Linked DNA regions of Homo sapiens. The protein of the gene in region 2 interacts with the protein of the main gene of each other region in a pairwise test. Each region holds a gene or a part of one and is shown on either strand. Other genes may lie near its edges.

What was found.
Region 1: the proteins of FRMD1 (region 2) and RAB2A interact in binary tests that used the Homo sapiens proteins (3 or more experiments, as listed by UniProt).

What each region holds. Positions count from the first base shown.
Region 1 is NC_000008.11:60,519,981-60,528,190, reverse strand, and holds part of RAB2A (ras-related protein Rab-2A), read right to left. Parts: intron 1-8,210.
Region 2 is NC_000006.12:168,061,557-168,069,766, forward strand, and holds part of FRMD1 (FERM domain-containing protein 1), read right to left. Parts: intron 5,968-8,210; exon of another isoform or gene 5,931-5,967; coding exon of another isoform or gene 5,891-5,930; coding exon 5,811-5,890; intron 5,574-5,810; exon of another isoform or gene 5,276-5,573; coding exon 5,199-5,275; intron 4,779-5,198; exon of another isoform or gene 3,502-4,778; coding exon 3,315-3,501; intron 2,201-3,314; coding exon 2,045-2,200; intron 1,404-2,044; coding exon 1,338-1,403; intron 1,184-1,337; coding exon of another isoform or gene 1,115-1,183; intron 426-1,114; coding exon 251-425; intron 1-250.

The DNA.
Region 1 (8,210 bases), on a different chromosome or scaffold from region 2:
GGATAGTTCTGCACTATTATGCATGAATGGAGGTCCTACCTATTTAAGGGAATTGAAGGCTATGTACTCTCACAGAAACTTAACAGACCAAACAGTAAGCCAACAGAAGAGGTCTGATGTGAAATTTATGGGAATCAGGAACTGTAATATGGGGAAGAGAGCATGAACTTTGGAGTCCGAAAAACCTGGGTTCATGTTCCATATTGGTCAGTTACTAGCTGTATACAAAAAGACTGTATGTGATAACCAGTGTCCCTTTCCTCACCTATAAAATGGTGTCTTCCTCATAGATTCAATGAGTTATGCCTCTAGAGAAAATGCCCTATAAAAGCAGTTGTATATTTACACTCGCTATACTGTATTATTTTTAAGAGGAATCAGAAGCAAAGCTTCTTTCAAGATTCTCAATGTCAGCAGTTACTAAGTATATACATGAACATACTTCAAAAAAAAAATAATGGATACTATGATTAGGGTAAATGAGCAGGGTTGTCTTTTTGCACTGGTTAGTGCTAAATTCAGTGACCACTTCAAAGAAGTCTACACCACCTCATATCATAGACTTTGAGTATAAATGTCCTGATATGGTTTGGCTCTGTGTCCCCATGAAAATCTCATCTGGAATTGTAATCCCCACATGCTAGGGGAGTGGCCAATCTGGTTGTTTAATAAGGCATGGCCCTTCCTCCATTGTCCCTCTCCTGCCGCCTTGTGAAGAAGGTGCCTGCTTCCCCTTTGCCTTCTGCCATGATTGTAATTTTCCTGAGGCCTCTCCAGCTCTCCAGAACTGTGAGTCAATTAAACCTCTTCTGATCTTATTTTACTGTTTCTACCATTTGCTCCTTAGCCCTTGAAATTGTCTGGCTCTGTGTCTCCACCCAAATCTCACATCAAATTGTAATTTCCAATGTTGGGGGAGGGGCCTGGTGGGAGCTGATTGGGTCACAGAGGTGGATTCCTCCCCTTGCTGTTCTCAGTGACAGTGAGTTCTCACGAGATCTGGTTGCTTAAAAGTGTGTAGCACTTCCCCCTTCACTCTCTCTTTCCTGGTCTGACATGGCTAGATGTGCTTGCTTCCCCTTCACCTTCTGCCATGATTATAAGTTTCCTAAGGCCTCCCAGCCATGCTTCCTTTACAGCCTGTGGAATTGTGAGTTAATTAAACCTCTTTTTCTTCATAAATTCCCCAGTCCCAAGTACTTCTTTTTTTTTTTTTTTTTTTGAGATGGAGTCTCGCACTGTCGCCCAGGCTGGAGTGCAATGGTGCCATCTCAGCTCACTGCAACCTCTCCCTCCCGGGTTCAAATGATGCTCTCATCTCAGCCTCCCAAGTAGCTGGGATTACAGGCGCATGCCGCCACGCCTGGCTAATTTTTTGTATTTTAGTAGAGATGGGGTTTCACCGTGTTGCCCAGGCTGGTCTCGAACTCCTCAGCGCAAGCAATCCACCCGCCTCAGCCTCCAAAGTGCTAGGATTACAGGCGTGAACCATCATGCCTGGCCTCAGGTAGTTCTTTATAGCAGTGTGAGAATGGACTAATGCAGGCCTTTATGGTAAGCGGAAAAATGCCCTCCAAAAGATATTAACATCCTAATCCCCAGAACCTGTGAATATTTTACCCTAGCATGGCAAAGGGGATTTTGTAGATTTGATTAAGATTAGACCTTGAGATGGGGAGATTAGCATGTATTATCCAGGTAAGCCCAATCTAATCACATGAGTCCTTAAAAGTGGAAAACCTTTCCTAAAACAGAGAGACTTGGGATGGCCCAACAAGAAAGATGAGACACAAGAAGGACGTGACCCACTGTTGTTGGTTGTGAAGATGGAGGAAGGGGGCCATGGGCCAAGGGATGTGGGTAGGTGGGTGGACTCTAGAAGTCGGGAAAAGCTCTCAGATGATAGCCAGGAAGGAAACGGGGTCTCAGCCCTACAGTTTCATGGAAGTATATTCTGCCAACAACCTGAATGAGCCAGGTAGCTGAATGAGCTAGAAGGGAACCCAGTCCTGTTGAAACCTGGATTTCATCCCAGTGACACGTTAGACTTCTGAACTATAGAACCGTAAGATAAATTCATGTTGTTTCAGTTGCTAAGTTTCTGGTAGTTTGTTATGCTAGCAACAGAAAACTTATATATATATATATATATATATATATATATATATATGTACACACACACATATATACATATAGACATATATACATATAGACATATAGACATATATATACATATATACATATATAGACATATATATATATCTTTATTCTCTCATTTACATTAAAAAAACTAAAAAATATATATATATAAGTGCCCTTAAATCCTGTTTTGAAACAAGGAGGAATAAATTGGTCAATGCATGCAGCCTACCCAGCAGAACCTACCTAGCACACATTCATTATTTACTGAAGCACTAACTCTAACTCTGTACCAGGCACCATCCTTCCTTTAAGGAGCTGGCTACAGCATGCTGCTATCAATATTCATTTTCTCCCTTAGATTTGGCTAAAAACACAGTGACTCTCAGCTATACCTGAAAATGAGAATATTTTAAAGTGAGAACTGGGAGAAACCTAAAGCTACATTATGGCTATGAAAAGTAAAAACTCAGAAGATATGGGGAAAGAAAGAGCAAAGGGGAATGGAGCCAGACCACCCTGTAATCAAGAGAATGGCCCGTGGAGTCAGACACCCCTAGATCTTTGTTCTACCACTGTATTCGTTCGTTTTCACACTGCTATAAAGATACTACCCGAGACTGGGTAATTTATAAAGAGGCTTAATTGACTCACAGTTCTGCATGGCTGGGGAGGCCTCAGAAAACTTATAATCATGGCAGAAGGGGAAGCAGGCACATATTACGTGGCGGCAGGAGAAAAACAGAGTATGAATGAGGAACTGTCAAACACTTATAAAACCATCAGATCTCATGAGCACTCACTATCACCAGATCAGCATGGGGGAAACTGACCCCATGATCCAATCACCTTCCATGGGATCCCTCCCTCAACACGTGGGGACTACAGAAATTAAAATTTGAGATGAGATTCGAGTGGGACACAGAGCCAAACCAGATCAACCATCTACTAAGATAATTTGCCCCAAATGACACAACTCAGTTTCTCCATCTGTAAAACAGTAATCTCATGTATCTGTTGAAGAATTAACAGATAATAAGCTTTTGATATGGTGTAGGAACTATAAAAAGTGTGGAGGATTACTCATGAGAATCTGCTATACAGACCACAATGCCAAAAGCTAATGTGATGGAGAATTCCATACAAATTCAGTCTGGCTACACCTTAGGGATTAAATAAAATCCCCCAAAGCAGAAAACTTGGCAGCAGAAAAAGAAGAATCAATTTTAGAAAAATAAGCAAAAAAGGCCCATGGCTTACCAGCAGTGGAATGTTACAGTACTACCATCAATACAAACAATACTTTTTAAAAATACTGATGTCTGGGACTCCCCGGAGAGTGACTAAAACAGCATTTCCATGGATGAGAACCAAATATTAATAGTTTGAGTTAAGAAACACTGCAGAAATTAAAAGGGGGCTACTATGTGTGCATTACAGGAGAGAGAATCTAGAACCTTTTTGCCAGGGATCTCTTACTTACAAGTGAAAAGTAACAGCTAAAACTAGAGTATTTTAAAACTTGCAAATAATCAAGGCTAATGAAATCAAATGGGACAGTTTCTTTTAGAAAATGTAAAGTTAGGAGAGGGACAAGAGAGGTCTGCATATGGCTGCATCTTTTGTAGCAAAGGACACAGCCTCATAGACTAAAGTGAGCAGAGAATAACAAATGAAGTAAGCACAGCTGGGCCAGAAGGAAAGGGAAAAACAGCTGAGATGGCAAAATTAGGGTCTGCTCAAATAAAACATCAAACTGACTGGCTACTGCAAGAGGAGGAGAGCTGAAGAATTAAAATGAAGGAGGGAAGCAGTTGGGGAGATAAAAGAGAAACTTTCATGCTGGACAGGAATGGCATGGGACAGAAAGGACAGAACACCAATTGAGAAGATGAGTAGGGAGAGTCACCAGAGGAGTTTAAGAAAGGTAAAAAGGAATGAGAACAACAGGGACAATAGCCTCTATGATTCACTATAAAGTCTCAGGCACGGTATAAATATTAGGGGGAGGAAGTAGTAAATAAACTGGGTTAGAAAACAGACAGAAAAGAGCTAGTCAAAAATCCTGAAAGACTACCAATAATATATATAAAGCAAAAATTTGGAGGCCGAGGCAGGCGGATCACGAGGTCAGGAGATCGAGACTATCCTGGCTAACATGGTGAAACCCCGTCTCTACTAAAAACACAAAAAATTAGCCAGGCATGGTCATGGGCGCCTGTAGTCCCAGCTACTTGGGAGGCTGAGGCAGGAGAATGGTGTGAACCCGGGAGACGGAGCTTGCAGTGAGCCGAGATCGCGCCACTGCACTCTAGCCTGGGCGACAAAGCGAGACTTGTCTCAAAAAAAAAAAAAAAAATGAAGGTTAACAAAAGTATATCATCTAAATTGTAAATGATGTTAAAAGATATGTTTCAGCTCTCATTTGATAAATGAAACAGCTAAGCACATCTAAAAATGGGCAAAACTAAATAATACAGTTTAGGAATCCATAAGTGATACAACTATGAAGAAAAGCAGGGGAGGATTAATATAAAATTCAGGCCAGTGGAAAACTGGTTGAGAAAGAGACATATGTAAGAATGTGGAGTCCTTGGCCGGGCGTGGTGGCTCATGCCTGTAATCCCAGCATTTTGGGAGGCAGAGGCGGGCGGATCACGAGGTCAGGAGATCAAGACAATCCTGGCTAACACAGTGAAAGCCCGTCTTCACTAAAAATACAAAAAATTAGCCGGGCGTGGTGGCGGGCGCCTGTAGTCCCAGCTATTCGGGAGGCTGAGGCAGGAGAATGGCGTGAATCCAGGAGGCAGAAGTTGCAGTGAGCTGAGATTGCGCCACTGCACTCCAGCCTGGGTGACAGCGAGACTGTCTCAAGAAAAAAAAAAAAAGAAAAAGAATGTGGAGTCCTTTTGCATGGGTGTTTATCATTATTCTTTAAAACTATTAAACTGTGTATATGTATTTTATATATTCTTTTATATGCATGCTACATCTCAATAAAAAAGCTTTAATAGAATTTTTCTACCTCTGAACTTCCCAGGTTGTTTTTTGAAGGTAATTCTAACAAATCTGCTTATATAATAAAATAAAATGACTAGTACTTCTGGCCGCAGGTTTTGCAACATTCAGCTCCACCTCAAATCTAGTCAATCAAAATCTCTAGGGGTTGGGCTGCTGAATATTTTTTTTTTTAAACAAACACTCCAGTGATTCACAAGAATCTAAAGAAACTCAAATTTGAGTCTCCCACAGGAAGAGGTCTTCCTTCTGTTTTTCTCTAGAGCTATTGAGAATCTAATCCCCTTCCTTCCCCAATCCTTCCCCAAATCCTCTACAACTTTGCTCCTTACCTCCCCTTCTCTTGTATTTAACCTTTCAACCTCAAGTCTCTCCTATCTTAAAATACAAACACACACTCACATTTATTCTTCAATAAAATAACCCATGCATGGTTCTACTTGTAACTTCCCAATAACTCTTTTTGTAAAACCACCAATACTATGTGTGATATTGTTTAAATTTTTTTTTAAAAAAGAAAGTAGGAGGACCCTACAATATAAAAAGCCCCATTTCACCAACACCAACTCTTTCAGTGTAATCAATATAAGCATATAATTCTACTCTCCTCCCCAGAAGTAACGGTTAAGTGTGTAGTCTTGGGACTTTTTTTATTTACACATATATAAAAATCCACAGTTTTTTAACAACATAAATGAAAATACACCTTAGTTCTCCCCCTCACTGACATCTGAATCAAACACTGTGTCAAAGCACTAATGTCTTCCTACCATTTCAACCAATAGTCCCTGACCTCTACTGCACATGACACTGGTAACCACTCCCTCTCTGGGATCTGCCTTCTCTGCAGATTCCATGACACTGTACTGCCCAGGTCTCTCTTGCTCTTTTGATTATTCCTTGTTAGCCTACTATGCTGATAACTTTCCCCATGTGCCCCATGAACACTAGTATTTCCCACCATTACATCCAAGCTTTCATCTGTCAATTCATTCAATGAACAATCACCACCTACTTCATTCCAGGAGGACAACTTTGTCAGATCCCCATTTGTCAATGGTTTTGCATGTGAACCAATGCTCCAAATCACTTGCATCAAAGAAACAAATGCTGCCTTGCCGCGGTGGCTCACACCTGTAATCCCAGCACTTAAGGAGGCCGAGGTGAGTGGACCACCTGAGGTCAGGAGTTCGAGACCCAGTCAGACCAACATGGCAAAACTCCATCTCTACTAAAAATACAAAAATCAGCTGGGCGTGGGGGCAGACGCCTGTAATCCCAGCTACTGGGGAGGCTGAGGCAGGAGAATCGCTTGAACCTAAGAGGTGGAGGTTGCAGTGAACCCAGATGGCGCCACTGCACTCCAGCCTGGGTGACAAGAGCAAAACTCCATCTCAAAAAAAAGAAACAAATGCTTGCAATTTTAGCATGATACATAATTTCACTTTGCAACTAATTTGAACTATATTATGATCAGCAAGCCCCTACGCCAATCAGGAGGATGGGAATTAGAAGTAAGCTTGAGTAGTTAATTTTTTAAGGTGATAACTTATTAATAATTATTTTCATATCATGAGAATTTTTCTTCCCTACATAACCTTGTAATTTCAAAAGCTCAGAAAATGAACTCTCAGGTAATAGGGACTCCATTTTATGTTATTAGCTCCCAAGTCTCTATCCCAGATTACTCTCTCCTGAGCCAGAAATAAACTTTCAACTACATACCAGACATTCCCCCATGCCCACTCTGGCGGTGCCTACTCATCATTCTAATTTCAGCTGAAACATCACCTAGTGCCTCCCCTCAAGGATCCATCCACTTAACTATTAAATAAATCTGACACTCAATGGTGTACCCTGGCATCTAAGACAAAGGCAAAGACCTTCCTAACTAAAAAGATAATTTAAAATGCAAGTGGGGCTGAGAGCTGTGGCTTGTGCTTGTAATCTGGCACTTTGGGAGGCTGAAGTGGGAGGATGGCTTAAGCCCAGGAGTTTGAGACCAGCCTGAGCAACACAGTGAGAGCCCATCTCTACAAAAATTTAAAAATTAGCCAGGCATGGTGGCATGTGCCTGTGTTCCCAGCTACTTGGAAGACTTAGGTGGGAGGATTGCTTAGGCCCAGGAGACTGAAGCTGTAGTGAGTGAGCCGTGATAGTGCCACTGCACTCCTGCCTGGGCAACAGAGATCATGTCTCAATAGATAGATAAATAATATAAGTAAAATAAAATAAAATGGAAGTGGTGGGTATATACATAAGAGTGAAAAATAAAAAATAAAATGTAAGTGGGACTGGGACTGAAGAGAAGGGAAACAGAATGAGGGAAGAGAGGAGGGGACCAGCATAAAATGCAACAGGGAGTGGTAGGATTTGTTAAACTCTCAAAAGAATGGATAAAAAGGAGTTGGCCAGGTGACAAAAATTTTTGACATAACTTTTTTTGATAGGGAAGAACAAGAAGGAGTGCTTCAGATATTAGCAGAAATAAGAACACAACCAAACCTGTGCCTTTGTTTACCTTGCTGAGCGTTGAGCAGCAGGGAGGGTTAGTGATAAGGTTAAAATGGTTGGCAGATGCTAGAATTTCAGAAGAAAAATTACTATAGATTCGTATTTTTTCTCTCCATGCTTGATAATTAACTGCTTATTAAAAACCACTTTCCACTTTACATCTAGATTTAAATGACACATTTTACTAAATGATTCAGAAACAAGACAGGAACAAGGAAAAAATTTAAAGCTACATTTTAACTGCATTTAGTCTTACAGTAAGAAAACAGCTCAATAGTATCATCATGATCATGTAAAAGTTTTTAAAACCTCTTCTATTAAAGAGGGAATTCTGAAAAGGAAAAATGTGCATTGTTCCTTTCCTTTGAGAAATCAAAGTACTTTCACATTTATCCTCATTTTATCCCACATACTGAGAGAAGGTTATAGGTTACGGAAACAGGGAAACAGAAAAATTAGGTGATTTCCTTCATTCTAAGATGCATGTTTTTGACCCTGACTTTTTAAAAAATCAAAGTGGATCTCACATTACTGATTTT
Region 2 (8,210 bases):
CTGAGAAGTGGAAACCTCAGGTGGCTCCTCAAGCTCCCAGCTTCCCCCAGTCCCATCTATAGAATTCCACTCCAGGCAGAGCTGGGGGCCACCACTTCGCCCTTCGACCTCAGCATCTGGGGGACGTGGGAGTCAGGAGGCCACAACAATAAGAGACAGAAGGCATAGTCCGGCCAGAGCCCAGTGTGCCCAGCCTAGCCCAGAAGGCACAGTCCGGCTGCGGAGCCCAGCATACCCAGCCCAGCCCCACCTTCTGCCTCCTCCCGCTGCCGCAGCTGTTGCAGAGTGGGCCGCACGCGGAGGTGGAGCTGGTGGCTGGCGCGCAGCAGGTGCAGCAGGTGCCTGGACCGCCAGGTGCACCCCGTGTAGTAAACCAGCTTCTGTGCTGCGGGCAGCCCATCCAGCTGGATCTCCAGCTTCTTTCCCTGAGCAAACAGGAGAGAAGTTGCCACTCCACAGGTGGAAAACCACGCTAGCCACAGGAAAGGATGATTTTAAATGTCAGCCATGGCCCCCAGGGGGACGAGGCCCAGGTTTTCACTTCGCAGTGCAGATGGCTGTTGGCGGACACTGTGCGCGGACACTGTGCTCTGCTCCGCCCTTGCTTGAGAGGACACAGCCCTCCTGGCTAGAAAGTGCCCGCAGCAGTGTGAGGGGAGTGGAGGTCTGGGGTGGGACAGGAAGACCTCGGTCTGGCTGTCCAGAGCAAGCCTGCTGTCCAGCAGCCCCCACAGTCACTGCCCTTTTATCCCCGGCACCCGGGCTGTGGGGTGACCCTGGGTGACAGCTCTGGGGCCGGGATGAGAGGAACAGAGGCCACACAGGTGCGTTTCTATGACCTGCTCTTCTTTTCTCCCTTGATTTTCTCAATTGGGAGCCAGAAGTTTTCAAGCGATAACAACAACTAGACCTCACCGGGCAGCTAAACACCCCACGCCTGCAGGGCCAGGGCCAGGCACAAAGCCCGTGAGGCCAGGACGGCCCTGATGCCCCCGAGAGGCCGGCAGGAAGGGACCTGCACCTCTTCGGGTGCAGAATTGTCCAGAAAATGCCCCGAGGATGAAGCTGCATCTGCCCAGGCTTTCCAGGGCACGGGGACCCCCCAGACACCCACCAGAAATGCCAGCTTCCCAACGTGGGGCCAGGGGAGGTCGTACAGCAGCTGCGGAGCACGGTCCACCTCCTGCGGGACAGCAGAGGCAGGGCGCGTCCAGGCAGGGCCAGCCAGCGCCCATGACCGCTGCAGGGATGCTACACAGCCCAGACTCCAGTGGGGAAGGGAGGAGGGGGTGGGGGCAGGACGAGGGGCTCTGTGAGGCTGGAGCCCCTTCGGTCACCTGGTAGATGTGCACTCCCCTGAGGGCCAGTCCCAGGATCACGGTGGGACGACCTTCCTTCTTATCCTAGAGGACACAGGTCAGAGGTCAAGTTGCAGGCCTGGAGGTGCTGGGCCTCACTGATGGCAGAGTATGGTCAGTCTGGCTAGGGGCCGAGGGCTCCATGGACCAGGCTGAGCTCTGGGGCCCATTTACAGACAGTCTCATTCACTCCAGCATCAGATCAAAGGCATAGTTGTCATAGCACAAGCACTGCCTTTCATCATGCCAGATAAACACCAGCCACGACCTAAGAGAGCCTGGCCATGCCGGGCCCGGGGTCCTGGTCCCACTCAGCCACGGGGGCTCCATCCATCCCTGCCCTGGGGTCCTGGTCCCATCCCACTCTTAGCCACGGGGGCTCCATCCATCCCTGCCCCGGGGTCCTGGTCCCACTCTTAGCCACGGGGGCTCCATCCATCCCTGCCCTGGGGTCCTGACCACTCTTAGCCATGGGGGCTCCATCCGTCCCTGGCCTGGGGTCCTGATCCCACTCTTAGCCATGGGGGCTCCATCTATCCCTGCCCCGGGGTCCTGGTCCCACTCTTAGCCATGGGGGCTCCATCCATCCCTGCCCTGGGGTCCTGATCCCACTCAGCCATGGGGGCTCCGTGCATCCCTGGCCTGGAGTCAGAGTCCAGCCCATCGCTGGCCGCCCTGGGCTCGACCTTGTGCAGCCTGAAGAAGTGCACGGGCACGTCCTCCAGCCGGCAGGCCTCCTGGATGAAGCACAGCATGGCCTCCTTGGGGCTCAGGCCCTGGCGCTCACGGTGCAGGGTAGGCATGTGCCGGAGGATGTAGTCAATCCCCCTCTTGGTGATGATCTGAGGACAGAGCCGGGAGGTCAGCTCAGACCCCTGCTGGTCCCCCCTTCCTCCTTGCCAGCCCCCTGCTCCGAGAAGCTTCCCCAGACTCCCACAGCTGGTGCCAACCTCGGTGGGCAGGGCCAGGGCCTGGCTGCTGAGCCCAGAACCAGAGATGAAGTCTCAGTGCCCACTGTGGCCCTGGGCCCTGTCTGATTTCCTGTCCCCCTCGGGTCCTCCCCAAGGGGAATGGCAGCAGCCAGCCCTCCTCAGACGTCTGCAGGTGGGGACTCTACTCCCAACGAGCCCTGGCTCTTGGGAACCTGCCCAGTGAGGACCAGCTGGGGCCATCACCGGGACCGGGGTAAGAATCGCAGGGACGTGGAATCACTGAGGGTGGAAATGTGCTCAGAGGCCAAGGGCACGTGTGGCATCCACAGCACTGGGAGGAAGCCTGGCTGGGCCCCACCCTGACCTCAGCGACTGCCTCAGAGCAAAGGTGAGAAGGCCCCAAGGTGCACAGGATAGAGAGGTACACAGGGATGAGCGGTCAAGGAGAGAAACCTTAAAGTTCACCCGGAACAGGGCCTGCATCCCCGGGGTGACAGCCATCAATCCGCGCGGCCATCAGGCCAGACAGCGCCTGGGACTGGGCACACAGTGGTACAGCCCACGCCTCTCCATGGCCCTCCTCCCAGGGGGATGCCACTCCTTCCCTTACAGGTGAGGAAGCTGAGGCTCAGAGACTCCTACGGGTCCCAGGATACTTAGAGAGAAGCAGGAAGGTTCACAGCCACAAGGCCCGTGTGGGTCACATTCCACAGCCAGGCAGCCAAGGGGCTCAGAGAGGTGAAGCCAGAGTGCAAGGCCACACAGCTGGCTGGGTGCGTCAGGAGCACAGGCACCCACACCTGCCTGCTCAGGGCCACTCCTCCCACACTGCCTGCCTTTGGGGGTGGTAAGGACCCTTGGGCCTTCAGGACAGAAGGACAGGTGATTGCCCTGTTTCCATCCCTGACCCTTGCTCCAGCAGCCCCTGCCAGGCCCTCAGTCCCCTGCTCCCATGGATGGCACCCGGTGGAGGTGGACAGGCACCAGACTAGCAGTGCTGGGAGGAGGTGGGCCCTGACCTTACCCACTGTGGGAAGTAGGAGTGTGGCTCGAAGTACCTCCCGGCATGGGCCGACTCCCGGTGCTCGCCCAGGTCAGCCTGCAGCGCGCAGGCAGCCAGCAGGAAGTAGGCTTCCTCCCGGTGAGCGCACTGTGACCTCAGCACGCGCTCCTTCAAGTGGCAGTAGTACAGGTGCCGTGCCCTGTGGTCGCTGGAAGGTGGCAGGGAGTGAGTTCCAGGACGACCGGTGTGGGGACTGCTGGCCCCTCTGGCCCTGCCTTGTCCCTCCCCACACCAGCTCCCAGGGCTGTCCTGAGCCCCTGGTACCTAGTTCCTGTCTTGTTATACCCACAGCTGTGTCCCTGCAGGGCCAGCACGGCACAGGCCCACACTCTTCCTGGAGCGGGGCACAGGTGACTTGCTGCCACCAAGGAGCCACTAGATGAGGCTCCACCTGCCGAGGTCCCACTCCTTCCCCAGTGAGCTTGGCCTTCACCAAACCAAGCCCCAGTGCAGGAGAGGTGCACAGAGCCCGGGCGACTCGAATCCCTGGAGGTGCACAGGGCCTGGACAACTTGAATCCCTGGATGTGGACAGACCTGGCTCCCAGAGCTCACCGCCCAGCACGGGGCTTGGCCATGGCTGGTATTCATTAATCACAGGCCAGGTGGAGGCTCGCCCAAGATGCAGGTGCAAGATCTTCTCATATAATTCCCCCGAACTGGCCCCATAGCACCAGGTAGCTCCATCCATCAACCCAACACTTTCCAGACCTCCCCTCCAAGGCTATCCAGAACCTTCCACATATTCACACACCCCTCACTCTCCAGAACCTGCCACACAACCACATACCAGTGTCTCCAGGGCTCTCCACACAACCACACACCTTTCACTCTCCAGAACCCTCCCACACAACCACACGCCCCTCACCCCCTAGAACCTTCCACACAACCGCACACATGCCTTTTGGAACTGGCAGGGATTGTGCCTGCTTAGGGAATTCCTGGGAAACCCCCTTAGGTTTTCCCCCAGGGTAAACCCTGTTCACGCACCCCTGAAGCTCTGTTCTGGAAGTAAGTCTCAGGATCCTCCTGAGGGACGTCTTTGTTACCCTAGAAGCTCTAAGGCAGCTCTGGAAGAAGCAGCCCCCGTTGGTTTAGAGTGCAGCCCACCAGATGTACAACTTACCCACTCCTGTCGGGGAAAGCTTCCCACTAGACACCTGCAGAGTGGGCAGTGAACAGCGAGAACCGCCACGCAGCAAGCATAGCAGCCCTTAGCCCAGCGACCTCCAGAAGCCTCGCCCACCCCCGGATGGTATACCCACCCTAGAGAGTACGAGTCCTGGCATTTGAGGAAGTACCACTTTAGGCCGGGCACGGTGGCTCACACCTGTAATCCCAGCACTTTGGGAGGTCGAGGCGGGTGGATCACCTGAGGTCGGGAGTTTGAGACCAGCTTGACCAACACAGAGAAACCCCGTCTCTACTGAAAATACAAAATTAGCCAGGTGTGGTGGCGCCCGCCTGTAATCCCAGCTACTCTGGAGACTAAGGCAGAAGAATCGCTTGAACCCAGGAGGTGGAGGTTGCAGTGAGTCGAGATTGTGCCATTGCACTCCAGCCTGGGCGACAAGAGTGAAACTCCGTCTCAAAACAAAACAAAACAAAACAAAAAGAAAAAGAAAAGAAAAAGAAGTACCAATTTATGACACAGTCTGTATACCTTTCGATTAAATAGAATTCCTGTGTTAACCCCAAAGCAAACAGCCGATATAGTGGGGTTGTTTGTTTGTTTTTTGTTTTTGGATAAACTCAAATGTAATGTGTGGCCTTCAGGGGACTTCCACGTCATGCGGCAGATTTTCAGTATTCCAGGAAACACCCCTTACAGTCCGCATGCCGTTACCTTATGACCCTTCCGTTTTCCACGTAGTGCTGCACTCGGAGGAAGGCCACGAAGGGGGCTCTGGGTTTCTCATTTCCCTAGTGGGGAAAATGCAAGAAAGAGCAAGTGAGCCGCAGGGAGGTGCCGCTGGCTGTCCTGTCTTCCCAGTTGGGGGGGCCTGGATTGCTTCACACTCAGCTTAAAGTCGAAGCTCAGGTGTCTGCAGCCATAGCTGACAATTCGACTCATGGTATTTTCTACCCGGAGAACCCTGAGTGGGACGTGGTCTACAGCGTTCAAGAACATCTGCAAAGGCGGGCTTCGGGCGGGCACACCTGCTTGCAGCCTCAGGGCTCACCACAGTCCCCCTGCGGACAGCCCCTCTGGACGGAGCAGCTGCGTGGACAGAAGGCAGCACATTGGTCCAGCACAGTCCACCGCGGTGCCTGCCCTCTCCCACCCCACGCATCCCACCACTGTCCACCGTGGTGCCCTGCTCTCTCCCAACCCACGCATCCCCGCGGTCCCCCACAGCCCACCGCGGTGCCTGCTCTCTCCCACCCCACGTGTCCCCGTGGCCCAGCACAGCCCACCGCGGTGCCTGCCCTCTCCCACCCGACACTCTACACTTACTTCATTTCTTTCTTTCTTCCAATCTTTTGAGAAGTACTTGCTGAGCTTTTGCTCCAAATCCATAAATATATACTCATTGTCTGAAAGCAAAACAAAAGGCTTCATCAGAGCAGTCACCATGCTTCTCAGGTGTCACCGTGTGTTCAAAACTGAGTGTGGCTTGGAGAGAAGAGATGCACAGCTGAAAACTGTGCGTCTGCAGCTGACGCTGCATATGGGGCTTTCCTTGGCTGACAACGCAGAAAGCATCTTAACACACATGCAGGTGTCAAATGCTTGCTTACTAAAACAATGTTCCAACGTGTAGGAATATTACAAGCTGATATTCAAAACTGGCACATGCTCCGGGCACGCCCTTTGGGAAAGCAACTTAGCAACATGTATCCCTACCCTCTTCCTCTGCAACCCAGGCACCCCTCTCTCAGCTATGGAATGAGTCGTTTAAAAAATAGAGATGTCAGGGTTGGATGCGGTGGCTCAACCTCGTAATCTCAGCAATTTTGGAGGCCAAGGCAGGAGGATTGCTTGAGGCCAGGAATTCAAGACAAGCCTGGACAACATAATGAGACCTTGTCACCACAGGAAAAAAAAAAAAATTAGCTGGGTGTGGCGGTGCATGCCTGTAGTCCTAGCTACTCAGGGGGCTGAGGCAGGAAGATTGCTTGATCCTGGGAGTTCAAGGCTGCAGAAAGCTATGAACGTGCCACTGCACTCCAGTGTGGGTGATAAGAGTGTGACCCTGCCTCAAACAATCAAGCAATCAATCAATAAAAATAGAGATGTCTATAATCTAGTACCAACGTGATCAACTTCAAGTCAATGATCCCAGCTTTACCTGTTAACCTGGTTTCCCTGGAAACTATAAGAGACGCTTCTTTCTAAATTAGGTGTTTCTATATTTTAAAAATATTTACCAGCATGTGTTTTCTTTATGGCCTGGAAAAATTAAACAATTTTCCTAGAGAGGAAAATAAAGCCTAGAGAGACACCATTCCTGCTGCGACTTAAAGCAACGTACAATCCCTCCGTGTCTGCTGGGAACTGGTTCCAGGACTCCCCTCGGATATCAAAACCCGGGGATGGTGTAGAGTTTGCATGTACCCTATGCACATCCTCATGTACACTTTACATCATCTTGAGATTCCTTATAATACCTGATGCAATGTAAATGCTGTGGAAGTCTTTGTTGTACTGTGTTGTTAAGCTCATATTATTTTATTGTTGTACTATTTATTGTTATTATTTTGAGTATGTTCAACATGAGGTTAGTTAAATCCAAGGATGCGGAACCCGTGGATACAGAGCACAGTCTACTCTTATTTATATTAGAAAACCTGCAGTCCTGAGAATAAAAGCCACAGGGAAAAGTTAGTCCCTGATAAGGCAGTACTCCCTTACAGCCACCTGCATTACATATGAAGATACTCCATCCCCAAGTGCTAGCACATCTGCAGATAAATGAAGACACCAGTGAGGAAGACTTACCCACAGAGGCCTGCAGAAAGGGCATCACAGGGCCGGGTGCCTGGCTCAGCCCCTCTCTGCCCTGCCTGTCTTTCTAATCCTTAGTACCTGGCTCTTCTAGACGGCGTTAGACCCAGGGGGAGGCTCCAAGGTGTCACCAGCCCCAGTTTACTTTTGTGTCAGGGAGGATCAAACACTTGGCTCATCGGTAACAACCACAGCAACTCACTGCTTAGACACTGGGTGCCATGCTCTGTGTTAAAGACTCTGAACCAATCCCTACATCTTCAACCTGATGGCACTGTTATCTACCCCCATCTCACAGACAGGGAGGCCCAGACTTGCAGAGTCTAGGGGAGTCCCCACCCCACCCCATAACAGGCCAAGGACCCTCAGAGCCAGGGGTTAGCAAACCAGGGCCCCAGGCCAAACCCCAGCACCCACTCGCTCTTGTTAATAAAATCTTGTTGGTAGACAGCCACAATCATTCTATTACATCATGTCCATAGCTGCTTTCGTACTGCAAAGTCAAAATATTTACTATGTGGCCTTTTACAGAAAAAGTCTGCCAATGCCCGGTCTAAGCAAATGCCGAGTGAAAAGGTCTAGATCACCATTCTCTGGTCCTGACTCCCCCGAATTCACTATTTGGGTACTCGAGCTTGAACTCAGTGTTTGCAGCATGAGTGGCAGATGTTTAGCAATGTTCGCTAAAGGATCTGGGGTTACCTTTGCCTCGGTAAGGTCAGCAAAAGGCCTTTTATTTGTACATTCATTACCTAAATCACCCCACTGTATCCTTACCAACTCCATCTCAAATCATAATAAGGAGGACAGAAAATGAACTCCTTAAGCTTAGTACTTCCTAGGACTTAACCTCAAACACTACGAGAACAATACTTGCGGCAACACCGATCTAGAAGATGAAACCACTTG